Homo sapiens: one gene and its partners. The protein of the gene in region 2 interacts with the protein of the main gene of each other region in a pairwise test. Each region holds a gene or a part of one and is shown on either strand. Other genes may lie near its edges.

Evidence for each region.
Region 1: the proteins of CHAT (region 2) and LASP1 interact in binary tests that used the Homo sapiens proteins (3 or more experiments, as listed by UniProt).
Region 3: the proteins of CHAT (region 2) and STAM interact in binary tests that used the Homo sapiens proteins (3 or more experiments, as listed by UniProt).
Region 4: the proteins of CHAT (region 2) and RBM46 interact in binary tests that used the Homo sapiens proteins (3 or more experiments, as listed by UniProt).

Annotation. Positions count from the first base shown.
Region 1 is NC_000017.11:38,873,047-38,880,072, forward strand, and holds part of LASP1 (LIM and SH3 domain protein 1), read left to right. Parts: intron 1-833; exon of another isoform or gene 834-1,067; intron 1,068-5,039; coding exon 5,040-5,134; intron 5,135-7,026. UniProt on the Homo sapiens protein: Plays an important role in the regulation of dynamic actin-based, cytoskeletal activities.
Region 2 is NC_000010.11:49,659,024-49,666,049, forward strand, and holds part of CHAT (choline O-acetyltransferase), read left to right. Parts: intron 1-3,621; coding exon 3,622-3,759; intron 3,760-5,753; coding exon 5,754-6,023; 3' UTR 6,024-7,026. UniProt on the Homo sapiens protein: Catalyzes the reversible synthesis of acetylcholine (ACh) from acetyl CoA and choline at cholinergic synapses.
Region 3 is NC_000010.11:17,647,141-17,654,166, reverse strand, and holds part of STAM (signal transducing adapter molecule 1), read right to left. Parts: intron 1-7,026. UniProt on the Homo sapiens protein: Involved in intracellular signal transduction mediated by cytokines and growth factors. Upon IL-2 and GM-CSL stimulation, it plays a role in signaling leading to DNA synthesis and MYC induction. May also play a role in T-cell development.
Region 4 is NC_000004.12:154,777,034-154,784,276, forward strand, and holds the start of RBM46 (probable RNA-binding protein 46), read left to right. Parts: upstream 1-4,238; 5' UTR 4,239-4,403; intron 4,404-4,471; exon of another isoform or gene 4,472-4,639; intron 4,640-4,755; exon of another isoform or gene 4,756-4,899; intron 4,900-4,922; exon of another isoform or gene 4,923-4,941; intron 4,942-7,243. UniProt on the Homo sapiens protein: Essential for male and female fertility, playing a crucial role in regulating germ cell development by ensuring the proper progression of meiosis prophase I.

The DNA of each region.
Region 1 (7,026 bases), on a different chromosome or scaffold from region 2:
ACTTTGTGCACCTGCTTTGTATCTAGGGAGCTGTGTTGTCAAGAACCTCGCCACGTCCCTCTTTCCTGGCTTGCTTCCCCAGGTTTCTGAAAACAGGTGGAGGTAGAGGATTGGTCTGCTGCCAGTTCCCCTGGAATCCCCTGTTAGGGTGGGCTCTCTGCCTCTGCTTGTCTCAGCGCTCCCTCCCCACTCGAGGGGGTTGAAGTCCTCACAGCTGTGGTGCCCCGTTTTGCTAGCTGAAGCTTAGAGTACCCCACCATCATCTTGTGACCATCCCTTCATAATAGCTACTAGTTATCACGATATGCTGGGCTCAGTCTTCACAGCAGCCTCACAAAGTAGGTGTATTCGCTCTTGTAAACGATGCACTCCATAAATGGAGGCTCAGGTAGCCCATGTGGCTCATCTCCCTCTCTTAGAGCTGAAATTCACATCCACAGTTCTTTCTGCTCAGCTCTTCTGCCAGTGTGTTTGCAGAAAGTACTTTTATTTATACATATTTATATTTTATTTACATCTCATTTGTGCCAAAAGTAGGTCCCATCCCTTCCTGACCCTATCTGGAGGAATGCTCTGGGCCTGGGGTCTTGTATGGGGGCGTGGGGCCACTGGGAATAATCCTGTCCTCCTCGGAATTTGTGGAGGTGCAGCAAAGATCTATGCCTTTAAGCCAGCGGGTCAGGTGGCCAACCAAGCTAGGCTGGTGCCCCGGCCAGGGTGGGGCTGGCATTGCCTCTGCAGGAGGGAGAAACTGTAACCCTGGGCAACAGGAAGGGAAGAGATGGTCTCATAATCCATCCCTGAGTCATGGCCACCCCAGGTAGCCTGGGTTCAGAGGCCAAGGTGCCAGGCTGCAGGCACAGTGACACGAAGCTTGCCACATCCCCCCCAACCCAGAGCCACAGAGGGACAGGCTGTCCCAAGTGAGGGGTATCCTTGCAGGCTTCTGCCCCTACCAGCCTGTTTACCTTTCTTTAGAGTGGGTTGCAGGTAGGCAAGGGAAGATCAAGATGACCCTGCCTTGGAGCCTCGGATCCAGGCTGAGAGGCCTCTAACAGGCAGCAGAGGTAGGGTCTGTCTGGTTTCTGTGAACAGGGAAGCCATGGACTTTGCAGGCAGCAGGAAGGGGCAGAGGTGCATGCCTCGAGGTGCAGTTTCCTTGAGTCCTGAGGCCCAGGAATGCTTCGCTGAAATCATCTTGCCTGGGGCCTTTAAAAGAGGGGGGCTCTTGCTCTGGGACAGAGCCCATGGGGCAGGGCAGAGGCAGACGGGGTCACTGTGGGGTCCTCTGGACATATTTCCCTGACAGTGTCCTTCCCCAGACCCCATTGAGACAAGGCAGGAGTTCTTTCATCTTAGGGTCCAGGCTTGGCTCACAGCGGTTGTGGAGGGACTGGCCATTTTCTGCCTCCCCTCCCCACAATTTTCCTACCCCAAAAAGGACACAGTGGAAGGAGCTGGTGGGTTTTCTTGAACCTTGGGGCCTTCCTCCAGAGAGGGTAGGGGAGTCGCCTGAAGCTGCTGGAGGTGCCAAGCATTAGGGGTGGAACGGCCTCCTCTCCTGACCTTCCAGCACTCTGGGAGACAGTGGCTGCAGCTCCACTTGACACTTGTGCTTCATAGTAACTGGTTTCCATGTTTCTGCTCAGAGCCCCCTGCAGGGGGACAGGCGACCACCCTCCTCTGCCCCACCCTTGGGTGTCTGGATGAGAGTGTGGGGCCTGTGAGGGAGGTGGGAAGGAGCTACTGATAGAAATAGGTGCCATCCCCTAGAAGAGGGGCTCTGCTTCCTCCGCGTGGCAGCCTGGAGGGGTCTTTGGAACCACTGGGTCCAGTGTTGGCCCTGTGCCCCCTGCCTGCTCAGTACACCCCACCCTCCTTCTCCAAGGGGCTTGGCTCCGGGTGCAGGCCTGGCCATCTGGAGTAGGGGTCTCTCTCCCTTTGTCTCCCCAACGTCAATCAGGAGGCAGCCTTGGAGGTCCGTGGTCCTAGGACAGTGTGTAGCCCTTCGTGTGTGTGTGTGTGTGTGTGTGTGTGTGTGTGAGAAAGTGGGTCATGGTCTGGATTCTGGAGAATGTTTTTCCTGGCAGGCCCCTGTGGGGGTAGGGGGAGGCAGGGGCCCAGGCAGGGGCCTAGGCAGGGGCCTGTGCAGCTAAGTAGGCAGAGGCCAGCAGACTGGGTGGTGACCAGGCTGGGGCACCCTGCCAATGCCTCCCAGTTACTCGGGGAGGGAGTGGGGCTGTCACTTCAGGGGCCTGTGGGGGCAGGGACCAGCCTGTCTTAGTGTCCCTGGTGGGTTCTGTGTGTTGGGGTATGCACCACTTCAGGGGCCTGTGGGGGCAGGGACCAGTCTGTCTTAGTGTCCCGGTGGGTTCTGTCTATTGGGTTATGCACCAGAAGGAGTCTTTAAGTTGCCTCATAGGAGTTTGGGGGCCCTGGGTCACTGGGATAGGCCCAGGTTGGGGAGGGGGCCAAGCTTAGACCCGCCACTTCTTTGCTTCCAGACTTCCGGCTGGCCGTCCTCCCCAAGAGTGGTTCTCCTAGCATTCTGTTTAATATTCCACCATTAGGTTTTTCCTTTGGGTCTTCTTGATAGGGAACCAGTACCCTATTAGAAGGTGATTTCCCCCTGAAATTACCCTGGGGGTCTCTGGTTGAAGTGGGCCATGGTAGGGAGGTTGAATCCCAGATTCTCAGCCTTCTTTCTGCTATCCCCTCCTCCCAGTGTCTCAGAAGCACCTCTCCCTCCGGGGGTTTGGAGACAACATTTTGAAAAGCATCGCCTTGGGGGAATTCCTTGACAAATGGCCAAGAACCAGCTCTGTGGCTGGGCTCCTTCAAAAGTCCCCCTGGGCCTGCCTCCTGGCCTCCTTCTTTTGGAATGGGGAATGTCTCCCTTGACTACTGGGAAATGGGGCAGGGACAGGCCAGCCAGGTCACTCAGGTGGCCTGGATTATTCTGGGGTCCTGGCAGTGGACCCCTGTTTGGTGGTGATCCAGCACATCATCCTGGGCTTCTGGGGGTGAATTTAGATCCTGTTGTCATGGGTTTGCCTAAGCATCAATACTTCTCAGGGGTTCCACAAAGACCCCTCCAGGCTGCCACGTGGAGCCTGTTAGATCGTTTCTCTTTTTTTTTTTTTTTTTTTTGAGACAGAGTCTTGCTCTGTCACCCAGGCTGGAGTGCAGTGGCACAATCTTGGCTCACTGCAACCTCCACCTCCTGGGTTTAAGTGATTCTTTTGCCTCAGCCTCCCAAGTAGCTGGAATTACAGGCATGCGCCACCATACCCGGCCTATTTATTTATTTATTTATTTATTTATTTATTTTTGAGATTAAGTCTCGCTCTATACCCCAGGCTGGAGTGCAGTGGCATGATCTCAGCTCACCGCAATCTCTGCCTCCTGGGTTCAAGCGATTCTCCTGCCTCAGCCTCCCGAGTAGCTGGGATTACAGGCACGCCGTCACTGCACCCGGCTAATTTTTTTGTATTTTTAGTAGATACGGGGTTTCACCATGTTGGCCAGGCTGGTCTTGAACTCCCAACCTCCAGTAATCCGCCTGCCACAGCCTCCCGAAGTGCTCGGATTATAGGCGTGAGCCACCGCTCCCGGCTAGATCTGTTCTCTTTCTGTCATCACTCTCTTCCCTCCGTCGGCCACCCTGGATGGGCCCTGTGTCCCACATTCTCTTTTTTTTTTTTGAGACGGAGTCTTGCTCTGTCACCCAGACTGGAGTGCAGTGGCCTGGGTTCACGCCATTCTCCTGCCTCAGCCTCCCAAGTAGCTGGGACTACAGGCACCCGCCACCACGCCTGGCTAATTTTTTTGTCTTTTTAGTAGAGATGGGGTTTCACCATGTTAGCCAGGATGGTCTCGATCTCTTGACCTCATGATCCGCCCGCCTCGGCCTCCCAAAGTGCGGGATTACAGGCGTGAGCCACCGTGCCCGGCCGTGTCCCACATTCTCACACGCATGAATGGATTGGAGCTGTGGTTGGCACAGTGAAGCCCCTCTGCACCCCAACACACACAATCTCCAGTGTGAGCCCTGACCCCCTCGGCTAAGGTTCACACCTGCTGTGCCCAGCACCTGACATCTGAGTGCTCAGAGGTGCCAAGTGCTGTGCTGAGGGCTTTGAAGGTGATTTCTCCTCAGTCCTGGACAATCCCAGGAGGGCCAGGTGTTATTACATCCATTGTACACACCAGGAAGTGGGCTCCTCTGAGGTGCAGGGCCCCGCCCAAGGCCATACAGTTAGTGGGGTAGAGCTTTGATGTCCACTATAGGGGTGTCCACCTTCAAGGCTTTGAAGTAGAGCCCTTCAGTGCCTCAGTGGGAGACCCGCTGCCGGGTGCTCTCCTGCCCTCCTCCTGGGGTGGGAGAGGATGAGGGAAGGGTAGAAAGGATGTGTTGTGTTGACAGAGCCTGGGACACCCAGCCCACTCCTCTGGCCAGGCATCCCACAGGAAGTGGGAGGTATCGGAGCTGTAGCACCACCTGGGGCTCATGTGGGGCTGGTGGGTGTGCTGGGCCCTGGTACAGGAGCTAGGAGCACCTGGGTTCTGGGCCTGGGTGTGTGGGGGCTGGGCCTTCCTCTTCTGAGGCCTTGGTGCCACCAGAGGAGCTGCTCCTTCATGTTCAGCGGCTGCTCCCTAGCAACCCAGCGCAGCTTTGCATAAGCAATGAGGCCTCGCCAGCTCTGGGCAGGAGGGGTTCCCTGGGGAGGGTGGAGCTGACTTGGGGGCTGCTGCCACTGCTATAACTGGGCTCTTCCCCCCTGTCCTTCATGCCTGCCTGTCTCTTCCTCCTGGGTTCAAATGGCCCATTGGTGGAGGATGAGGAAGGAGAGAGGGGAGGGGAGTGCCAAAGCCTGTGACCTGAAATGCCCCCAGCTCACCTGGGATGATTCCATGTTCTCCCCACAGCCATGGGCCTAGGACAGTCCCAGCAGCTCCTGAGTGCCCCTTCCTAGGGCCTGAGCCCCTTTTTCAGAAGTCCTGGTATCTGATGTATGTCCTCCTGTCTCCATCCCCAGTTCTGGCATAAAGCATGCTTCCATTGCGAGACCTGCAAGATGACACTGAACATGAAGAACTACAAGGGCTACGAGAAGAAGCCCTACTGCAACGCGTGAGTCCTGTTCTGGGCAGGGGGCTGGGTGGGCACCTTGGCTCCCTCCCCGAGTGAGTTCTTCCTTTCCTTCCAATAACCGCAAGGTGACATTGGCGAACACTTCCATCCCCTACTTGAACATCACAGTTTGTCCTCACAACAGCTGAATGAAGCAAGCACTTTTTATCCCCATTTAAAGTGCTTTTATCCCCCATTTAAAGTGCATTTAAAGTACAGATGAGGAAACTGGGGCTTAGGGAAGGGAAGAGACTCTCAAGGTGGGATGGCTAGGGCAAGACAGGCTCTAACCCAATTTCGGGCAGTAAGGCGAGCACGTTTCTTTCCACTGTCCCCTGCTACAAAAGAGGGGGCTTTCCTCGTGGTCTTTCAAGAATGAGTGACGTGTCTGTTGTATTTGGGGTTGAGGACTTTGTTCTGTTTACCTTCCCTTATTTCTCTCCTCAAAATCGACAGTTTCCTTCTCTCACCTGGGTACTTCTAGGCTTTGGGGGCTCCTTCCTCCAGTGGTTCCTTCAAGAAAACTCTCTGGAAGCCTCATGCCAGCCCTTTTGGTGTTCATTTTTTGAGAATGGGCAGGGGTGCATAAAGGGTGTTGCCTGGGCCAGATAGATCTCTTCCCTGCCTGGTGAGGGAGGCTGTGGAGACTGTTTCTTTTGAGTATAGTCATCTTGAGTATAGTGCAGCTCTGTTCCTTCTGCACTGGGACCTGCAGCAGCTGACGGTAGGGAGGGAGTATAGAGGTGGGGTCCCCCATCCCAGAGCCTGGAGGAATACCTCCCCTCCCATCCCATCCCATCCCATCCCATGCAATCCCAGAAAGTACAGCAATTTTCCATCTTCCAATTGACCTTGTGAGTAGCAAGTACAAACTCAGTGTTGGGGCCTCACAGCCGCCTCCACCTGCGAGGTGGAGGCTTTGGAAGGTCAAGTCACTTATAAGTAATGATGTAATGATAATTTCTTTTTCTTTTAATTTGCTTTTTTTTTTTTTTTTGAGTCAGAGGACTCATCACCCAGGTTGGAGTGCAGTGGCGCGATCTTGGCTCACTGCAACCTCCGCCTCTTGGATTCAAGCGATTCTTGTACCTAAGCCTCCTGAGTAGCTGGGATTACAGATGCATGCTACCATGCCCAGCTAATTTTTGTATTTTTTAGTAGAGACCGGGGTTTCACCGTGTTGGCCAGGCTGGTCTCGAACTCCTGACCTCAAGTGATGCACCGCCTCAGCCTCCCAAAGTGCTGGGATTACAGGTATAAGCCACCTCGCCCAGCCTTAATTCGATTTTTTTTTTAATTTTAACTTTTTTTTTTTTAACTTCAACCAACTCAAGTAATGGTAATTTCAGTGTTCACATGAATTTAGGATCTGACTTGAGTCCAGTTTTTTTTTTTTTTCTCTTAATTCTCAGTCAGGAGGCTCTTTGCAGCTGAAGTTCACCCAGGGAAAAAAAAATTTGGGACTTGTCTAAAAAGGGGGCTTAAACCTCCAGCCTTACCCCTAACCTTACCCCAAACCTTCCTTGCTTCCTTACCCCCTCCCGTTCCCTGGCTAAGACCACTCTTTCATCTTTTTAGGGGCTCGCTCATTCAGCAGACATTTATTGCCTGCCTGCTGCTATAATACATACTAACCTGCACCAGGTGCTGGGAAAACAGATTCCTGATAAAAATCTCAAGCCCAAGAAGCAACATGAAGTTGTCCCTTCTGGAAGAAGGAGGGCACTGGGCAGGTTATCTGGGTAAAGGAAGGGTTGCAGCTCTGTCCTGGCCCCTCCTTCAGCTGCCCCTTCTCTTCTATTAATTTCTACTGTTCCTCTTCCCCCTACCAACCCCTCCCACCCCCACAAGGGAAATGGGACATTCTTCGAATTCTTAAGGGCTCACACAAG
Region 2 (7,026 bases):
TGGAAAATACTCATAGCAAAGGAAATTTCACAACACTAAACATGAAGAGAAGATTCTAAAATCTATCAGAGGATAAAAAAATCAAATACAAAGATCCATAAAAAAGATGTAATTAATTTCTGAACAGCATCATTGGAAGGTGGAAGATAAAAAGAGTAGTGTCTTCAAATTCTGAGAGAAAGTGACCTTCAACACACATTTCATACCCAGCTAAACTGTCATCAAGTTTGAAGATGCATCAAAGATATTTTTAGACAGAGAAAGTCTCAAACATTTTACTTATTAAGCACCATTTCTCATAAAGCTACTGGAGAATGTAGACTTCTAAAGTGAGAAAATAAAACATAAAAGAGGAAATCATAGGCTGAAAAAAAACAGAAGATTTAACACAAGAAAAAGATAGAGGGGTGCCCGCAGGATGACAGTAAAAGGAGATCACAAATCAACAGTTGTTGAGTACACCTAGAGAGCAATCAGTCCATAAAGAAGCAAGAAGTGAGAGGACAAATGAAATTCTTGCTGCATGTTTAGGAATCAGTTAGAAACAGATACATGGGGCCTGGCACAGTGGCTCATGCCTGTAATCCTAGCACCTTGGGAGGCCGAGGTGGGTGGATCACCTGAGGTCAGGAATTCAAGACCAGCCTGGCCAACATGGCAAAACCCCATCTCTACTAAAAATACAAAAAATAGCCAGGTGTGGTGGCACATACCTGTAATCCCAGCTACTAAGGAGGCTGAGGCAGGAGAATCACATGAACCCAGGGGGTGGAAGTTGCAGTCAGCCGAGATCACGCCACTTCACTCCAGCCTGGGTGAAAGAGCAAAACTCCATCTCAAAAGTAAATAAATAAATAAATAAAATAGATACATGGAAAGCTAAGGAAGTAAAAAAGTAATTTATACATTGTCAATTCTAGGGAAAACAAAAAATTCAATAAGAAAGGAAATCTAATCATAGTACACTACATGACCCAGCTGTGAATACTTGCTTAATTATACTTATGTATATCGTTCTGTATACATGATTATGCTGTATCTTGATCAAACTACAAAGAGTTAAAACATAATCTTATTGGGAAGATGGGAGAGTAGAAGTGTGCTGGGGGAGCAGGGTCATAAAAGAGCTGAAATTGGCCGGGTGCAGTGGCTCACGCCTGTAATCCCAGCACTTTGGGAGGCTGAGGCAGGTGGATCACAAGGTCAGGAGATCGAGACCATCCTGGCTGACACGGTGAAACCCCATCTCTATTAAAAATACAAAACAATTAGCCAGGTGTGGTGGCGGGGTGCCCGTAGTCCCAGCTACTCAGAAAGCTGAGGCAGGAGAATGGCATGAACCCAGGAGGCAGAGGTTGCAGTGAGCTGAGATCGCGCCACTGCACTCCAGCCTAGACGACAGAGTGAGACTCCATCTCAGAAAAAAAAAAAAAGAGCTGAAATTTCACTGTCTATAACAAGAAGATTATAGGTAAAACTGAGAAATTCAGTAGTGGTAACCTAAGCATATGTTTGGAGGAAAGAAAGTATATACCCAAAAGAAATAGCTAAAAGACTGTAAGGAATTACCTTTGTGGGGTAGGAATCCGTGCTGGCAAAATGACCTAGGCTTTTGGTTTATTTGGATTTCTAAACGATATAAATATATGACAATAACAACTTTAAATTTATTAAAATGTCTAGGAAAACACCCTCCAAAGCATTGCCATAGGGTTGTGTTAATAATTTTAAGTTGATGAGAACAACCAAATCAAAGAGATGGGTTTGGGGAAAGGAGAGATACAAAGATGCTTAGGATGTGAATCTGGTGTGTGGTTGGACATGGAGGGTAAGGAAAGGGGGAAAGAAGCAAGGAAACCTAATAACTGGTAAGCATATTTGCCAGTGGTCGTGGAGAAATAAAGTTCCAATGGCAAGGTGGTCCAGAGCCCCCATCACTTACTCTCCCACTTCTATGTTTTCCCTTCCTCACACTTGAGTTTATGATCATGTTTTTTTGCATGGTTGATGAAATCTGTCCCCCACTACACCATAAGCTCCACAAGGACTGAGTCTACAACTGTCTTGTTCTCTGTTGTGGCTACAGGACCCGCGGCACCAGGCATATAGTAGGCACTCAATTAAGATTCCCTAAATGAATGAATGAAAGACTGAATTATAAGTCATTTTACTCGTTATTACTCATGGCTCTGAGCCAAACAACCTGTGAACTCAGTCTCTCTTGCTACAGTTATTCCAAGGTGGTGAAAAGAGGGGTGAGTTGACTGTTCACAGGGAAGCTGCTTCTATGGACCAACACAAATCAGGAATTAAATAGAGGAAACCAGAGAAATTAAAAGAGTAGTCTCCTTCATAGATGGGCTCACCGTTCTTTCCTTCGGTCCTAACAGGTAGGGCACGTCTAAAGTGAGCTGTGGTTGTGTAATGTTTGTCTTTTCAGCCTCTAATTAGGTGCGTTCAGAGAGACCAGAGCCTGAGTCATCTTTATGCATTCATTCGCAACTGAAAGAGAACAGCTGTCAAATCCCTAAACGTGCCTTGTAAACCTATACCAAGTTCATTGTGAATGGGAAGTTTCCTCCTGTGCAGGGCTTTGACAGCTAACTGGCCATCCTACAGAACTGTGAAACCCCAAGAGTTACTCACAGTTACCCTGATGTTGACCCAAAAGTGATTACTATGGGTCAGGGTGGCCCCCTGAGTCTCCATCAGCCCCTAGAATTGCTCCAAATAAACATGCAGTCCAAAAAACCAGTGTGCATACTACATACCCAGCCTCAAGTGGGGGAGCTGTAGAATGAGTACCCGGCCCCACTTCCAGACACCTCACCCTCCGTGAACCCCTCCTACATTGACATCCTGGAGCTTTCTCTATATTTCTATCCTTTGATAAAAGTTTAAATATCTTGTGATAAAAAGAAAAAGAACTTTTATTATTCAACAGGCTCTTTCCCCTTGAAAATGTCAGTTGAGCCTGCTAAGGGGTCTAGTTCCTGTCTCAAAACGATTTCTTAGATTATGGATCCAGTTTAAATGAATTGATCCTGAGCCATGAAATAGCAGCCAAGATTCAGTAACAGATCTCACACCCTCTATCCTCTATCTCTTGTTCCCTGGGCTCCTACTGGAGGAGACAGCGCTGGTTGTGGTGGGAGTCTGTTCAGGACAGCCTGGGACGCCCTTCACAATGCTTGCACAGGATCCGGTAGTCTCCAAGCTCTGCACACAGCCTTCTTCCCAAACTCTCTCCCTGCCCAAGCAGTTGGTAGTTGAGAAGACCAGGCCAGCCCCATTCTTTCCACTTAGAGAACCAGGCGGATATAGTTGTGTAGGGGATGCTCAGACTCACTAACCTTTAGCTCAGATGTCTCAAGCTAGAACCCAACCTGCTCTGGACTCATTCAGTGCATGTGGAAATGCGCAAGGGCCCGGGAGCAGAGGCCGCATGGTAGAGCGGTCAGTCCTGAGCAGCCACTCATACACATTGTTGGCAGCAGGCACTGGGTAAGCATGAGCCGTGGCTGCTGGAGTCACCAGCAGTCCTGTAGACTACAGAGCAGGGAACAAGGAGGTGCAGGAGGCCCACTTCTCATCTCCTGTTCTTTGTCCCCAACTACACAGGCCATAACAGGGATGGCCATTGACAACCACCTGCTGGCACTGCGGGAGCTGGCCCGGGCCATGTGCAAGGAGCTGCCCGAGATGTTCATGGATGAAACCTACCTGATGAGCAACCGGTTTGTCCTCTCCACTAGCCAGGTACGGCCCCGTGCAGCTATCGCCCAAGAGTAGTGTAGTCAGTAAGCTTTCTAAAGAGCAGTGACAACAAGCCCACTAGCTGGAATCAGGCAAATCCTGCCTCTGCTTTTTCTGAACTATGTGATCTTCAGCAAAATGATCTGAATGTTCATTAGAAGATGGTTTACTGACCAGGCTTGGTGGCTTACAACTATAATCCCAACACCTTGGGAGGCTGAGGCAGGAGGATTGCTCCAGCCCAGGAGTTTGAGACCAGCCTGGGCAACATGGGGAGACCTCATCTCCCTATTTTTAAAAATTAGCTGGGCATGGTGGTGCGTGCCTGAAGTCCCAGCTACTAAAGAGGCTGAAATAAGAGGATTGCTTGAGCTGGGGAGGTGGAGATTGCAGTGAGCCCTGATTGCACCACTGCATTCCAGCCCAGGTGACAGAGTGAGACCCTGTCTCAAAAAAAGAAAAAAGGAAGAAGAAGGTTTCCCATCTCCTAAATGGGAGTAATCAGCAGACCCTACTTAGCCGAGGTGGAGACAGTACAGGAACATACCCATTCTGGTGCCCTAACCATTACACCTTACTACCTTTCAATCTATTGCCGCGGTTTCCACGGGCTCTGATGCCCAGCAGGTCTGCAGTGAAGTCTTGGCTTGGCCAGATACAATTATGTAGGGAGAAAGCCCAGCCCAGGGCCTGGCATGGACAGGGCCCTCTAAATAGGTCACAGATATTATTATAAAGGGCCACGCAACCAACAGCAGAACATTCGTGGCCAGCCCAACATCTAACCAGTGCCTCAGCGTGTCCTGTATGAGAGCCACTGCCACAAAGACAGAATGCAATCCATTAGAGAGAGGTCGTGGTTTAGGAGGGGAAATGCCCCACAGCCATCAATTTACTAAAATGCCACCTCATCTGCGAAAGGCTGGATGGGCAGTACTGGAGTTGATAAGCTGTGTTTGAGGACAGAAGCCCACTCAGTAATGGGATGTTGTCATTATGGCAGTGAGCATGCAGACGTGAATAAACGAGGACAGAACACAGCACCATAAATTTCTCAGGAAATCATCCATGGGCAAAAAGTGCTTTGGAATGGCTTTATGGCCTTCGGCTATTGCACGGCAAATTTATCTGACAATGTGGTGACTCTATTAGCAAGACTAATGGTTTGTTCTGCCCCATTAAAACAGCCAGTGTCACTTCCAAAGGCCTCAGCACACAGCACCAGAAACCTGTAGGTTTAAAACAAACCAGGCCCTGCACCTGCCCAAGAATCCTTTCTATTTTTTTTCCCAAGGACCAGCTAATAAAATTAATCTGGGGTGTGGGAGTTTTGTTGTTTTCCAACTGGAAAGCAGCATTTATGGCTTGAATGCTTTCAGAAACATACTTTCTTGGTTTGTGATCTGGATTACAAAATCTCAGCACTCTGATTCAAAACATACTAGGTGCATAAGTAAAACTGATGGCAATCTTTGAAACACCCAACTCTGGGTAATTGTGCATGGCCAGGCTGCAGGGAGAAATCAGAGAAGCCAGGCAATACTGACAGTAATTAAGGATCTGGGGGAAATCGACACAGAGGATGGGCCAGATTTCCTCCAGTTCATAAATTCCTCCCTCCGGAAAGCATCTAACTATGGGGTGCCACCAGGGGACCATTTAGTAAATTACCTGATTGCCTCCGTGCCTCAAATGGCCCCCAGGTGAAGTGGAGACTCAGCCCAAGACCTAGCACCAGGTCACTCCGGGAGCTTCCAACTCCACAAGTAGAGCAGATTGCACACCAGGGAGTGGGCTTGGGGCCCCTCATCCTCTGATATCATGCAGTTAGATGGGTCTGTTTTTATGACTCTGGCTGTGTCCATCCATGCTAAAGCAATCACTTGATTTGGTTAATTCAGTCAAACCCCCAGGTGGAAAACAGAGAAGCCAAGCCCAGTCGAGGCTGGCGGGCTGCATTCCAGAACAAGCAGCTCCTGACCTGTCCTCTCCTCCAGGTGCCCACAACCACGGAGATGTTCTGCTGCTATGGTCCTGTGGTCCCAAATGGGTATGGTGCCTGCTACAACCCCCAGCCAGAGACCATCCTTTTCTGCATCTCTAGCTTTCACAGCTGCAAAGAGACTTCTTCTAGCAAGTTTGCAAAAGCTGTGGAAGAAAGCCTCATTGACATGAGAGACCTCTGCAGTCTGCTGCCGCCTACTGAGAGCAAGCCATTGGCAACAAAGGAAAAAGCCACGAGGCCCAGCCAGGGACACCAACCTTGACTCCTGCCACTAGGTTTCACCTCCCAAACCCAGCCTCTAGAACAGCCAGACCCTGCAGATCCCCACTCCCGTCCCTTACCCCAGCTTTCCACAGCTCCCTGTCCTCAGGGTCCAACTCACAGACCATACAGAGACATCACACAGAGCCGGAGTGTTAGGAGGAAAGGGTCCCCTCTTCATGCATGGGAATCATCATTTTCAAGGTGGCTTTGGGCCTGCACACTGGGAAATGGGACCTGCCTGGCTCAGAGGCAGCCTGGATGCACTGGGGAACCACACTAAGGACTCCTTCTGTGGTCCTTGGAAGCTTAGTGTTCATGTCTCCTTCCCTAGCAGGACCTAGTATGTCCAGGTGATGCTTCTGCCCAAGGAAAGGATGAGTCACTCTATTACATGCAACGTACCTAATGAGTTAGGAAGGAAGAGGCTAACTCCAGGTCATTACCTCTTTTCTTTTTTGGGGGAGAGGAGGCTGTGTTTTGAGATTCAGAGCATTCTTATCGTGGCATTCCCAGTGTCTCCACTGAGCCGTACAGTCCTACAAGCACCCACTCCTCCCACACACACCACAGAGCCCAAGTCCATTTAAAATATAGTGACTTGGGCCCACAAACACATTTCTGCTTTCGTGCCCAGGGGCAGCCTTCTGTTGAGCTCAGAAAATTGTGTCCAGCTATTCTGAAAGGAAAAAAAAATTTATCTGTGACTGCCCTGGAGTTGCTGCCACTCTCTGCTTAGCAGGCGGCATCAGGGCCAGTCCAAGATGAGTAAACTGCACAGCCCCAAGCAGATGGTGCCTGGTGCCGGTGGGTTTGCAGAGGACCTGGCCCCTTCCCGGGGTCCTGCCATTTGCATTTTTTCTGCATCTTTTCCCCTCTCCTCCCCTCCTACATGCTCCAGTAGGTGAAGAGAGATGGTTACTTTGGGTTTTTCCATTATCTGTTTTGTTTTAAGACAGAGATTTTTAAGAAAACCACCCTGACATTAATTTCAGAAATTCTTA
Region 3 (7,026 bases), about 32 Mb from region 2:
AACCCTCTACAATGCACTGCTAACTACCCAGAGGGCTAGCATACTTCTGATGCTAACTACCCAGTCAGCAAAGACTTCACAGGTTGAAGACACAGCTCTCCATAAGACTCCCTTCACTTCAAACCTCAGACACAAGCTCTGGGGTCCCCAGGCACTTCTGACCAACTGGATACAAACTGGAAGTTCCCACTACCCTTCAGGATTGATAATTCACCATAGCAACTCACATAGAAAGTACTATACTTACAATTAGAGTTTTATCACAAAAAACACAAACCAGGACCAGCCAATAGAGATACGCAGTTGTCTCTTGGTATACATGGGAGATTGGTTCCAGGATCTTCCACAGATACCAAAATGTATGGATGCTCAAGTCCCTAATATAAAATGGCATTGAATTTGCATAAAGCCTTTGCACATCCTCCTATATACTTTAATTTCTCTAGATCACTTATCATGCCTAATTCAATGTAAATGTTATGTAAATAACTATACTGTATAGGGCATAATGACAAGAAAAATGTCTCTATGTGTTCGGTACAGACATGATATTTTTTCCTCTACAAGTTTTGATCCACTGTTGTTTGAATCCATGAATGCAGACCCCCAGATACAAACAACCACCTGTATGGAGCTAGATCTGGGAGGGTTCCAAACATAAAGCTTCTGTGCTAGGAAGCTTCATCACCCTCCAAATACATCAGTGTGTATCACCACAATGTGTATCACCTACCAGAATGCTTAACTGAGCTTCAGTGTTCAGAGTTTTTATCCTGTTTTATCAAAACAACCTGTTTTACCAAAACAAACATTTAACTCTGTGAGATGAATCCACACATCACAAAGCATTTTCACAAATAGCTTGTTTCCAGTTTTTATCGCGGAATATTCGGTTTTTCAGTGTAGGTTTCGATGGACTGGGAAATGTACCTTCATGGATTCTACAATTGGGGTGTCATTATATAGGTATGATTTATGAAATAGGACCACACAGTGGAACTTAATCTCCAGGTCCCTATCCTTCCCAGGAGGTCCTATGACTCAAAGCCCAAATCCTTTAATCACATGGTTAGTCCTTCTGGAGTGGCCAGCCCCCAGACCAAGTCATCTTATTAGCATAAACTAAGCTATTATCCCAGGGGCCCACCAAAAATAACAAAGATGCTCTTATCACTCAGAAAATTCCAAGGATTTAGAGGCTGTCTCCTAGGAAACAAAGACTAGTCAAATTATTTATCATTCAACACTATAAGAGAATTTTATCTTAAAAGAAACCCAATATATACAGCAAACCCAAGTGGAAGTGCTCTGATTGAGGAGTCCCAGAGCCTGCTCCCTAGGTACTCAACCCCTCTAAAGCCCAAGAATATTGAGTGAGTCATTCTGAACAATATCACTTACTTCATCTTAGAAAAGGAAAGCATGTTATTACTTTGGTCTGGTAGTGCATTTTAATAATTAATTCATCATTCTCACTGACTGGTAGCCAAGCAGGTTGTTTTTTTTTTAAGTGCATTTTTTAAAAGAACACACTTAAATTCTAAAACCTGCCACCTTATTCAAAAACATAATAGCTAAGCATATTAAAACTTATTAAAAAGTTAACAGTTTATCTGATCAAATATAAATTGCCTACTATCATAGTTGAGTGCTATCTTACAGTTCTTGATTAATGATACATCCAGGAACATATGATACAGTTATCAGCAGATATTATGTTGAAAACTCATGAACTACTTTATTACTTTCCTACACATAAATAGAATCAGCATCTGATTCATATTTGTATGGATGGATCAGAAACACAACCCACTTCAGAAATCTAAAATTGTTCACATCATTTATTGAGGCTGTCTCAAAATCATCAAAATCAGTGGCACAATTCTTCTCAGTTATAAAAGAACAAGTATTTTTTTTTTAATCAGAAGGATATAAACTACCTACAACATGGTTCTGTGAATAGCAAATGAAGTCAAAACTATTTATTTTCTAAGACAAAAACAGGGTTTGTGGGAAAAGGAAAAGTGACAAAAATAACAGACTTGCTTCTAAAGAATTCAAAGCTTCATAATGATCTCATTTTATCCTGAGAATATCCTTACACTAATACTCAAAAAGAGGAGATTGAGAAATCTGCCCAGCAGTACCCAGAAAAAACATACACAGAGCCTCATTTGAATTTCAATAGTCTTTTCAAAAGATTAGAGAACTTTTTCTGATAAGCAGCAACTTTTGATTTTTCTCAAAATTTATCACTGTCAAAGATCTGGGGAGGTAAGAAATGCTGACAGGAGGACTTCGCATCACATTTAGGTGGTGAGGAAAGGACTGTCATTCAGTCAGCCCGAAGATGTAACAGTTCATTAAAAATGGCCAATGGAAAAGTAAGTCTGAAAGAAATTATCCTCTTTGCAAATCAATTCTTCAAAAATCTTTCATCTAATATCCCTGATCCTCCTGGAAACTGTATCTGCAAAGAAATGTAATCTGAAGCTCTGCTAACCAGAAAAAGAAGTAGGTATCAAAAGAACAGCATGGAAGCATTTCAGAGAGGAACATAAAACAGAAATGATAACCTAAAGGCATTAGAAAAAACAGCTTAGAGGAGAGGTAAAATAGGGACAGAAGAATCAAAGAATACAAGTTCTTAATCCAGTGGATATCAGATGGTTAACATACTTGTATTCTGAATTTTCACATTTCTCTCCTATGTTTTAACAGTAACTGATTGCACACCTTAGAATCCAATAGTCCCCACATCTATTTCTAACTTGATTATAAAAGGAGCTAAAACGTATCCATTGGTTACTACATGCCAGGTGCTATGCTAAGTGCTTTACATGCATCATCTCCTCAAAACAAACCTACTGAGGATTAATGAACAAATAGGTATGTCAAGCCAGAGGATCCACACCTGAAGAGCACAGTGGCATAAAACCAATAAGGAGTGAAATACACCTGCAAGAAAAAAGTGGAAGGTGAGGCTCAAGAGTCACAAAGAAGCCAAATATAAGAGGCCTTACATGCCCTGCTGAAAAGTTCAAAGTACTGTGAAAGCGGTAGATTCTTCAGAACTTTTTTTTTTTTTTTTTTTTTTTTTTTGAGACGGACTCTCGCTCTGTCACCAAGGCTGGAATGCAGTGGTGTGATCTTGGCTCACCGCAAGCTCCGCCTCCCAGGTTCACGCTATTCTCCTGCCTCAGCCTCCTGAGTAGCTGGGACTACAGGCGCCCGCCACTACGCCCGGCTAATTTTTTGTATTTTTAGTAGAGATGGGGTTTCACCATGTTAGCCAGGATGGTCTCGATCTGCTGACCTCATAATCCGCCCACCTCGGCCTCCCAAAGTGCTGGGATTATAGGCGTGAGCCACCGCGCCCAGCCCTCTCTAGAAATATTTTAAACGGAGGGGCCACGCGTACATTCACATTTTAAAAATATCACCATCAGCCATCTGGAAAATAACTAGGGAAAAACTGGAAGCAGGGAAGAACAGCTGGAAGCTACTGTACTAATCTGAGAGAGTGGTGATCTAAACCTGGAATCCTTGAGGGCATATTCGGTACCAGGGTATCTGGCACAGGGTAGACAGGATACATTTGTTGTTTAGAATGTAGAAAATTACAACTACAGAAGTCAAGAATTACTCCCAAGTTCACGACTTGTATGACTAAGTAAACTTAGGTACCAACTATCAAAACAGACAAAAAGCATAATTGAGAAGAAAAATTTCAAATGGTTTTGAACATGCTGAACTTGAGATATTTGAAGCCTATTCAACTCTGGTAAAGAGTCAGAATGTCATGTGTTTTCACAAGTAATCCTCATAGCATCCGCATGATGTATAATGGATATTGCTATCCCTATTTACCAAAGTAGAAAGTGAATTCAAAGGGGTCCTATACCTATCCAACTATACATTGTGTCCATTTACTAAGAGTAAATGCTGCAGGTGCAATTTAAGCCCAAAGCCCAAGGTCTTTCTATCATATCACACTTCAGGAGAATGTGACATTAACATTTAAGATTCATCTAGCTTATGATTTATGAGGCTGACTGGACTAAGCAAAGCAGACTAAAAAAATGTCCAAGTATGTAGGATGTGGACTGGCCCAAAGCAGTCTGACTGGGAACACAAATATTCTATTATAGAAACAAAGACATATGATGATTTAGCAGAGGCAGGGAAATGATTCAAAGATGCCTCTTGGGTTTCAAGTCAAGATAACTACAACACTAAAATATTACCAAATTGGCTGGGCCCGGGTGCCTCACATCGGTAATCCCAGCACTTTGGGAGGCTGAGGCAGGCAGATCACTTGAGGCTAGGAGTTCAAGACCAGCCTGGCCAATATGGCAAAACCCCATCTATATTAATGTAAAAAAAGATTTAAAAACAAACAAAAATGTTACCAAATAATGAATGAAGAGCCAGACTTAGAAAGATAACTTCAGTTTTCTGACAGATGAATTTGTTTTGGAGGGAAAAAAGAACAGCAAATAGAAATACAAGACTAATGTTCTAGAAAAACACCAATAATTCATTATTTGATAAATAATTCTTGAGTGCTTTCTATGTACCAGACACTATCCCTAAAGTATTAGGGGAAAAAAAATGAAAAGTTCTCATCTTAATGGAGTTTATATTCCACACAAAAGATAATCAATCAATTAATGTCAGGTCACTAAGTACTATAAAGAAAAAGAAATGGAACAAAGAAACAGAGTGAGAGGGTAAAGATGCATTTTTTTTAATTCTTTTTTTTTTTTTTTTAAAGACAGGGTCTCACTCTCTTGCCCAGGCAAGAGTGCAGTCATAGCTCACTGCAGCCTTGACCTCCCAGGCTCAACCAATCCTCTGGATTCAGCATCCCGAGTAAATGGGACTACAGGCATACCACCATGCCAGCTAACTTTTTTATTGTTTGTAGAGACAGGGTCTCATTATGTTGCCCAGACTGGTCTCCAATTCCTGGCCTCAAGGAATCCTCCTGCCTCAGCCTCCCAAAGTGTAGGGGTTACTGGCGTGAGCCACTGCATTCAGCCCAAGAAGGATATTTTTTACAGAAGATTATTAGGTAAAGCGTCTCAGAAAATGACGTTTGAACAGAGTCCTGAATGGGTGTGATGAATATCCAGACCTTCAAATACCTGGGTGAGGAGTATCCCAGGCAAAGAGTACCATATAGCTACAGAGGCAGGAATGAGCTTGGAGCGTTCAGATTTAAGAAGCCTGGAATTCAAGAGAGTGAGTCTGGAGATCATAATCATATCAGACACACAGGAAGAAGCCATATTGTGAGCCACAATAAAAAAACTTGCATTTCCCTTTAAGTAGGATAGGAAGCTACCAGAGAACTCTGAGCAGGTAACTGACATTATCTAACATTTTTAAAAGATCACTGACCTTTGTAAATGAGAACTGATTGTAGAGGCAAGAGTGGTAACAAAGAAACCTACCAGAAGGCTCTTGCCACTGACTATAAGAGATAACAATGACTGAAGTAAGGTAAGAATGGTGAGACAGAAAAAGGTGATGATGTGTCCGGAGTTTGTTCCCTCTGGTGGGTTTGTGGTCTCGCTGACGTCAAGAATGAAGCCACGGACCTTTGTGGTGAGTGTTACAGCTCTTAAAGGTAGCACGGACCCAAAGAGTGAGCAGCACCAAGATTTATTGTGCAGAGTGAAAGAACAAAGCTTCCACAGCATGGAAGGGGACCCGAGCCGGTTGCTGCTGCTGGCTAGGGTGCCCAGCTTTTATTCTCTTATTTGTCCCCGCCCATGTCCTGCTGATTGGTTCATTTTACAGAGTGCTAATTGGTCCATTTTACAAACCTCTAGCTAGCTACAGAGCACTGATTGGTGCATTTTACAAACCTCCAGCTAGCTACAGAGCACTGATTGGTGCGTTTTTACAGAGCACTGATCGGTGCATTTTACAATCCCCTTGTAAGACCGAAAAGTTCTCCAAGTCCCCACTTGACCCAGGAAGTCCAGCTAGTTTCACCTGTCAATGAAATTCTGGATATATTTTTAAAGTACAGCCAAAATATCTTGCTGATAGGATGAATGTGAAGTGTGAAGAAATAAGAAGAATCAGTGATACTCCTAGACATTGGAGCTCAGTGACAGGAAACAGTAATCATGTTGTCGTCTACTGAGAAGGGCAAGGATGAAGGAATGAGCAGGTTTGGGCAAAGAACTAAGAATTGAGTTTTTGAATGTTTGTTTTTAGACTCTAAGCAGAATCCAAATGGAGATGCTCAGTAAGGAGATGGATATCTAGGTCGAGAGCTCAGGCAAGAGGCTGAGAGTAAGAACATAAATCCAGGAGTCACCAGAATACGCTAGGTATTTAAAGCTAAGAAATTAGATGAGGTTCTTTTTAAAATCTTACTTAATAAAAAGTACAGAAATTTTTCTAAGTGCTTTACAAATATTAACTCAACCCTCTTAACAACTCTCTGAGGTAAGAACTATTATTACTCTTATATTCCATATTAAAGATAAGGAAACTGAGACACAGATTATCTAAGCAACTAGGCCAAAAATCACACTACCGGTAAGCAGCAAACCTGGGACTGAATCCAAGCAGTGTGGCCCCAGTCTGAATTCTTAACACTAAGCTAAATTGCTTCCTAATACTCTAAGGGAAAAAAAAAAGTGGAAGGAGAGAAGAGGCTCCGGAACTGAGCCGCAGGGCACTCAACTTTTAGAAGTTGCAAAAAGGGGAAGCAAAAAAATTTAAAAGGAGCTAAGTAGAAAATGAGAAAAAGTTTGGTGTCCTGAAATCCCATGAATAAAATACTGTATATCAAAGAGGAATGCTTAAGAGATCAAAAAAGAAATGGACTAGAAAGTGACCATTGGATTTGGCAAGGTGGAAGTCACTAGAGACTTTGAAATACAAACTTGATGAAATAAGTTATCTTTACGTTTCTTCTAAATTCAGCTCTTGAATTATAATGTCCAAAATGAGATTCATTTATTCCATAAATGTTTACTGAAAGTTCTTCAGCATGCCAAA
Region 4 (7,243 bases), on a different chromosome or scaffold from region 2:
AATGCAAATTAAGAGAGATACAGTGACTCATTAGAAAGATCTGATGCTTAGTTTAGAACCCAGACTGCATTATGGGTCATAATGGCATTCCTCTTTCCCCTTCGAGTTCCATGGACTCTCCTTATTTCCTGCATTTGAGAAATGCAAGCAAAGTGCCCTCTTGGGCACCAAACGGGAGTCTCTCTCTGCTTCCTCTGCAGTGACAAATGACAGAGTTGGACTGTCCCAGCTGGAATCATCCAGGGAAGATGCCATCCATGGAGTGCTAAGAGAGAAATGTCATGCCTAAGAAAGTGCTTTGCCTCACACATCCTTCATGGCCAGGTGTACTGAAGTGCCTGAACCAATGCTGGCCCTGTTGTCCTCAACCAAAATAATTTTCTTCATGGAATATATTTATGATGGCTTAAAAAAACTTAAAATGCAATTTAAAAGTTTCTGGGAGAACCAGAGTATCAGAATGAAAGTTAGAAGAGAGGAGTTGGAGATCCAGTATTGCTGCTGACTGGCTCTTTGACTTGGGGCAAGTTAATTTCAGCTTTCCCAGCCAAATGGTTGCTAAGGTGTCTTACAGCTCTAGTTTTCATTGTAACTTGTTACCCAGGGAAGCACACTACCAAACTTATCCAGTGAGATAAGACAGGAAAGATTTAATCACATTCTCTCTCAACCAAAGTTAATCAGTCTTCATTATCAGAAACTTATTTTTTATTACATATATTAGTTTCTTATGTTGTGAGTTAATCCTAGATCTCTCAGAGAAAAATGTGTATTTCCTTTCGCATCACCTATTTCTATTATTGTGGTTTATTTATGTATTTATTTTTAATAATTAGATAAGTGGATCCTGATGTTAACTAACAACTTATACCAATCTGAAAAGGGTTAGCTTTATGAGTACTTCCTTTAGTTTGCCCCTATGTCAACTGAGGCCTTGGTCATGGGTTTGGTCCATATATAGGCCATTAGCTACATGTGAAGAAGATCTCAGGTTCTGATTTGCTGCCTTGGGAAGTGAGGTTGTTAATCATAGGGGGTACACTGACAGGATGTAAATATGGCTCATCACCATAACTGGAAAAAAGCAATGTTAATGCGCCTCTCCCGCCACATATAGTCATCTTGGTGCTGATGCTCACCTTCCAGTATAATGAAAAGTTCAAATTCATCTGTCAGGCAGAATGCATTAAACCAGGATAAGAAAGTAAGGGTCAGTGAATTAGAATAAACATACTTACTACACACATAAAATAAAACAAAACCCCAAATCCACACTTCCAAAACAGGTTTGAGATGACATTTCAATTGAAGATTCACCACATTAAAGAGTTCCTTGTTCCTGAGCGATGTGCTGTAGATCATTAATTCTATAAACATGCAAGTAGCTGCCATGTTTTTGGTGGATCTGTGTCATATCACTGCCACAGTGATAAAGGAAGCTGAAGAAGCTCCAACACATGGAAAATAAACCAGATCACTGCACAGGCTCATTTATATGGAACAGAGGACTAAGTTGGATGTTAAACATTTTAAAGATTTCCCATTGCTTCTCTTTCCTTTGTCAGGGGGTGTATTTTGCAGAATGTATATGAAAATAACTTCTAAGTGATATAAAAGCTTGCATCTTAACTTCTAAGTGATATAAAAGCTTGCATTTTATATGGGGAAAATACATGTATTCAGACTATTTTTAACCACTTGAATTTTGCATCTCTTCCTTTTTTTTTTTTTTTTTTTTGAGACAGGGTTTCGCTCTGTCATCCAGGCTGGAGTGCTGTGGCACGGTCATAGCTCACTGCAGCCTCAAACTCCTGGGCTTAAGTGATCCTCTTGTCTCAGCCTAACTCAAAGTAGTTAGGACTACAGGTGTGTGCCACCACACCCGGCTCCTTCCAATTTTTTATTGATAACTTTTACTTCCCATGTCACACAGTCACTATTATTTCTCTTTCTGGTGTTTGCAGAGATCCCCTTCTATTTTCTCCCTTGTATGCCAAGTATCTTTCGACACTTCTTTTTAGTCACAAACACCTTTACATTGCTTATCATCTTCCTTCTTACTCATTTGGGTCACCTTTTCCCATAAGCTCAAATAATCTTAAAACAAATCCAATTTGGAATCTGTTACTGAAGAATTCTAGCTGATAAAAGTGTTTTGGATCTCTTTCTCTGGGAGCCTTGAGAAATAAAGTTAAAGGTCATTTCTTTAATTGTACATGCAGACAATAGTTTTTATAGCATTTGAAAAGTATACCTATTAATAAACTTTAGGATAATAAAAACTTAGACAAAATCTAACCAAAATGACATACAATGTTAAGTATGGGAAGGGTCTTTAAACAACACTGTCTCATCTATGGCAAGGTTCTATGGTCTGACTGTAATGCCTATTGAGAAGCCCTTGTCTATTTGGTTTTCTTTATACTTGGGGAGAAAAAAGACAAAAAGGGAAACAAGAAAACCAGCAATGTTCAACAACCTTCCAGGCTATTTCCAAGAACAATCTTTGTACCTCACAACATCTCCACCTAGTGACTCCTTAAGGATCTTACAGCCATTCCTAGAAATTACTTGTTTTAAATTGCCACTAATATGCCTAACCTCATTTCAGATAATTTAACCTTAAACACATGTATTTAGAATTAATTACTAGGAATTGAGAAGGTACCGACATGAAAATGAAGAATGAGGAGAATCTTTTTCTGGAGAAATAAAAGAGCAGCAAAAAATAGTAATCAATATAACAATCACAGTTCCCGAGGTACAGAATTGGTGACATGTCAAACAAAGCCAACTAGATCTATCAGTCTAGGTTTTCTAGTTGCTTTATTTTGAATGCATACATCTTATATAAAATGACACTTGTATTCATTGACTAAAGGGCAGACGGCTTACAAAAAATATTTGTTGAGCTTCCAGTGTGCATCAAGTACTATGCCAAGTTTTCTACTTGTTTCTGGACGTATTTTGAGACAGTATAGTATAGCAATTATGTCTGTAGGTTTCAAACTGGAGCCACTTACTTGCTATATGACTTTGCCCAAACTACTTAAGGTTTCTGCATCTGTTTCCCCGTCTGCAAAGTAGGGCTAGTAACTTTACCAAAGTTACTGTGAGAATTAAATGAAAATATGAAAAGTCCTTAGGATTGTTTCTGGCATCTGGCTCAATATTTGGTAATATCATATATTATTTTATTCTCACAATCCCCACTTTAAACAGGGTCTGTCTGGCTCCAAAGTCCCTGCTAATTCCTCACTGTTGTAGTATATTTAAAAATTAAAAATATACTTTAACAAAATTTAAATTGGTAGACATTCATTAGTTCCTTGAATATATGGAGAAAATACATTAGGAGTTAATGTGGAAGAAATCACCTTGAGGTTGGGAATAAGGAGATCTGTGTTACTCGGTGAATATTCTGGGCATGAAGTTCCTTGTTAATTAGAGAATCAACATGAGCTAGGTTCTTTATTGTCTAATATTCCATGAATCTAATATTATCTATACATAAATAGTTGGTTCCTAAAGGTGGTTTTTTCTTTCCTTGTCTGCATTTAATTTCGAGCTGTCTTCAAAGGAAGCAAAACTGAAGTTATGCATACCGAATGCCAAACAACCCTATCTGTGAAAGTTGGTTTTACAAGAGCATAGAACCCAGTTCGGCAGTTCGCCTCTGCCAAATGTCCCTGCAAGCTGATTAGTGGTAGCGTCAAGCCTATCGCTAGTTCTCCTCATCTAACCCATTTTCTTAGTCATTGTCATTTAAACCACTTATACTTTATACTTCTAGTCCTATTTGCAAATCCATCTTTTAGCTTTATAACCCACCTCCCCCTAGCCCTTAATTTCAAAGGTCCACCGGATATATGTGGTTGTTTTGCGCCAAACTAGCAGTTTACAAGAAAACTACATCAAACAAGAAAAAGAACCATTACGATGCATCTATGTTTTCCCTTAAGTGCGGAATTTCACACTGCAGCCCTCGTCTTCAAACACCTAAACAATGCACCTAGGACCTTCATTTATTATTCCGTGCCCACCCACACCCTAAAAATCGCTCTCTTCACCCCAATTGCTCGAAATGCCTGTCACTCCAAGCACTTTGACTAGCCCAAGAGCCTCATTTAAACTTTAGCCCCACTCTCTCCTCCTCGCCCCGCCCCGAAGCTAATCCCTGATTGGATGAGGCACCACTCCTCGTGGGGCTGCTTAGGCCACCGCGCGCGCTGCGCGCTGGGAAACGAGTGGAGACACGAGGACCAGCGCGAGCGGTCCCGGTGGGCTACCCTCCCCCTGCGACGACCCCCCCTCGCTCTGACCGACTGGTCCCCTAAACGGTGGCGGCGGTTTTTGGTCGTTGGGCCCCGGGATTTAGGACCAACATTTGAAGACCCGAAGGGGTGAGGAGGGGAAAGGGGAAACGGGGTCACTACCAGACCACTGCTAACGGCTGGATAGTGCCCGGCTCACTCTCACGCCGAATACACAGTGGGGGCTGGCGGCGGTGGCTGCGGGGTTCACCCTCGTCCTTCCCCAGCCCCGTCGAGCAGTGGGAGGGCAAGTGTCCGAGACGCTGCTTCCTGCCCCGGCAGCATCCGGCCAGAAGGCGCCCTCGCCGTCACCCAGGCGCTGCATGGTGAGGGCCCAGCGGCCAGTCTCTTTGGGGCGTCTGGCGGCCTCTTCCGCCCCGCGGCGCCCTGCGCTCTCCGCCTTATTTCCGCTCTCCCCCGCTGCCTTCCGGCCGCTTCCCACCTGTGCTGCATTTCGTGTTATTTTCCTGACACGCTTACGCCGACGACCAACGACCGCTGCAGGCCCGGGCCGCTGCCTGGCCGTTGTAGGGTCCGCGCGTCCCCTGGAGGCTTTGGACGCCGTCTGGGGCGTCCCGACGGCTGGGTGAGATTCAGCAGTCTGGTTTCAGAATTGAATTCAGGCTGGGTGAGCTTTAGCGGGCTCCTAGTCGTTTGCGTGGAGTTCTAGCCGGGACTGAGCCTCGAACTTTACTTTGCCTTTGTCTCCCTGTTTCTTCCCCGAGTACCTCGTGTGTGCTGGGCTGTGGGCAGTGGGAGGCCGCGGGTGCACAGGGAAGATAGCTCGCCTCTCCCCCGACACACGGACGGCAGCACACGTCGTGGCACCGCCTTTGTTTCCTAACATCTGGTAGTTTTTAAACCCCTAATTTAAAAATGTTTCTTTGGAGCTGCTGGAAAAACCACAGAACCAGCGGCATTTAATCCTGGCGTTGATATTCTGAGATATTGCGAAGCTGCTTGATTTATTTGGGCACCAGTTTTCTCCTATGTAAATTTAGCTTAGGTAATATTTAAGTTCTTTAAGCTTTAACTGTCTTTACATTCTTGATAAATTCCCCGTAACCTTTATGTTATGTGGTAATCCTAATATAGGCAAATATCAAAGAGGAAATATCATAAGGAGTTTTTTTGTTTTGTTTTTTGTTTTGTTTTGAGACGGAGTCTCGCTCTGTCTCCCAGGCGGGAGAGCAGTGGCAGGATCTCGGCTGACTGCAACTTCCGCCTACCGGGTTCAAGCGATTCTCCTGCCTCAAACTCTCGGGAGTAGCTGGGACTACAGGCGCGCGCCACCACGCACAGCTGATTTTTGTATTAGTAGAGACAGGGTTTCACCATGTTGGCCAGGATGGTCTCGATCTCTGGACCTCATGATCCACCCGCTTCGGCCTCCCCAAGTGCTGGGATTACAGGCGTGAGCCATCGCCGCCGAGCTTTTTAAGTCTTGGCTTCTCTTAAAAATTGGCCTGATTTTGTGTTTGAGAATGGCGTTATAACCAGGAAGCAGGATATGTTGCGTGTATAAGGAGAATAACATATAAAGGACATGTTCAAGGGTCTGTAGAATTTTGCTTATTTAAATAATGGGAAGATATTTTCGTTTCAAGAATCACCACGATGTATATACAGTTTGACAGACTTCCATTTGGATCTTTTCAGAATTGAATCTCCTTATGGGGGTCTAATAATAGACTTGTTTTCAGGGCACACGTTTAAAACATTCTACTTTAAACTTTGTTTGCATCTGTCTGCATTTGTTTGCATTGTTAATAAAATTTGTTTGCATCTTTATAGACATAAAGATGACAGTGCTGCCTGCAATCACTAAATATTAATGCTTTCTGCTTAAGGCACTGCTTTGATTGCTGATTTTCACTTAAGAGGTTGGAGTAATGTACTTGAATATTATTGCCAAATATAATACATATCAACACTTAAAATATATGCATTACTGGATATATTATGAAACAAGAATTATTAATAACGAGAACAAACCCAGTTTATGGACTGAAATTAAGTCTCAGGTTTAATGGTGTTATTTTATTGTTAGGAGAAGGAAGACATGTCAGTTTAAGTAGAGTTTGTGACTACAAATCAAGTAATTGCTGTAAAAATTGTCCAGATTTGCATATTAATGCCGAATGTTATTTCTCATTTTACTACCCGATGATTGATGAGGCAAGAAAATGTGATCTCTATGTTCAAATTGGTAACAGATTTAAAATAACAGATTATGAAGGACCTTGTGTAAGGAATGGTGTACTTAATTTGGACAAGAATATGTAGATATCTTTATCCTGAATTCAAACAGCATATACACCTTTGTGTTCAAAGCAGTATTTTTTAAAAGTATTAGTTACAGTTTTTTTAAATAGTTCAATTTTTAAGTCATTCAGAATTTAAACTTAATATTAAAACTTTTATCCATTATATATTTAACTTCTAGCAATAAAATGTGCTCTCATTCTTTAATAAAAACAACTTAAAATGGAATTGAACTGATCCATCTGTACACTTATTTCGAAATAATTTTAGACTTCCATGTCCACACACTTTTGATTAACTCTTCTCGTTTTCCAAGAACGAGAAGTGTAGTGGCTGTAGTGCAGTCTGTCACTAAAATGAATTGCTGCTTAAAAACAAACAGAAAACCTCCATTGACCTGGCAACCATTGACCTGGCAACCATGGTTTCCATGTACCATACTCAATGACAACAGTGCTAACAAATCAGGAGTTTAGTACCATGTAATTCAAGAAATGTCATAAACATTTAATGTGCCCCTATAAAGGCACGCTTTGATATTCTTAATTTTTTTCATTATTACATTGAGTTTTTAAAACCCACAGTAAGATTATATAATGTTCTCTTTCACAGCTTTCTAAATTTTTACAGTAACTTGGAAGATGAAGTTTCAGTTGAAGTAGTTT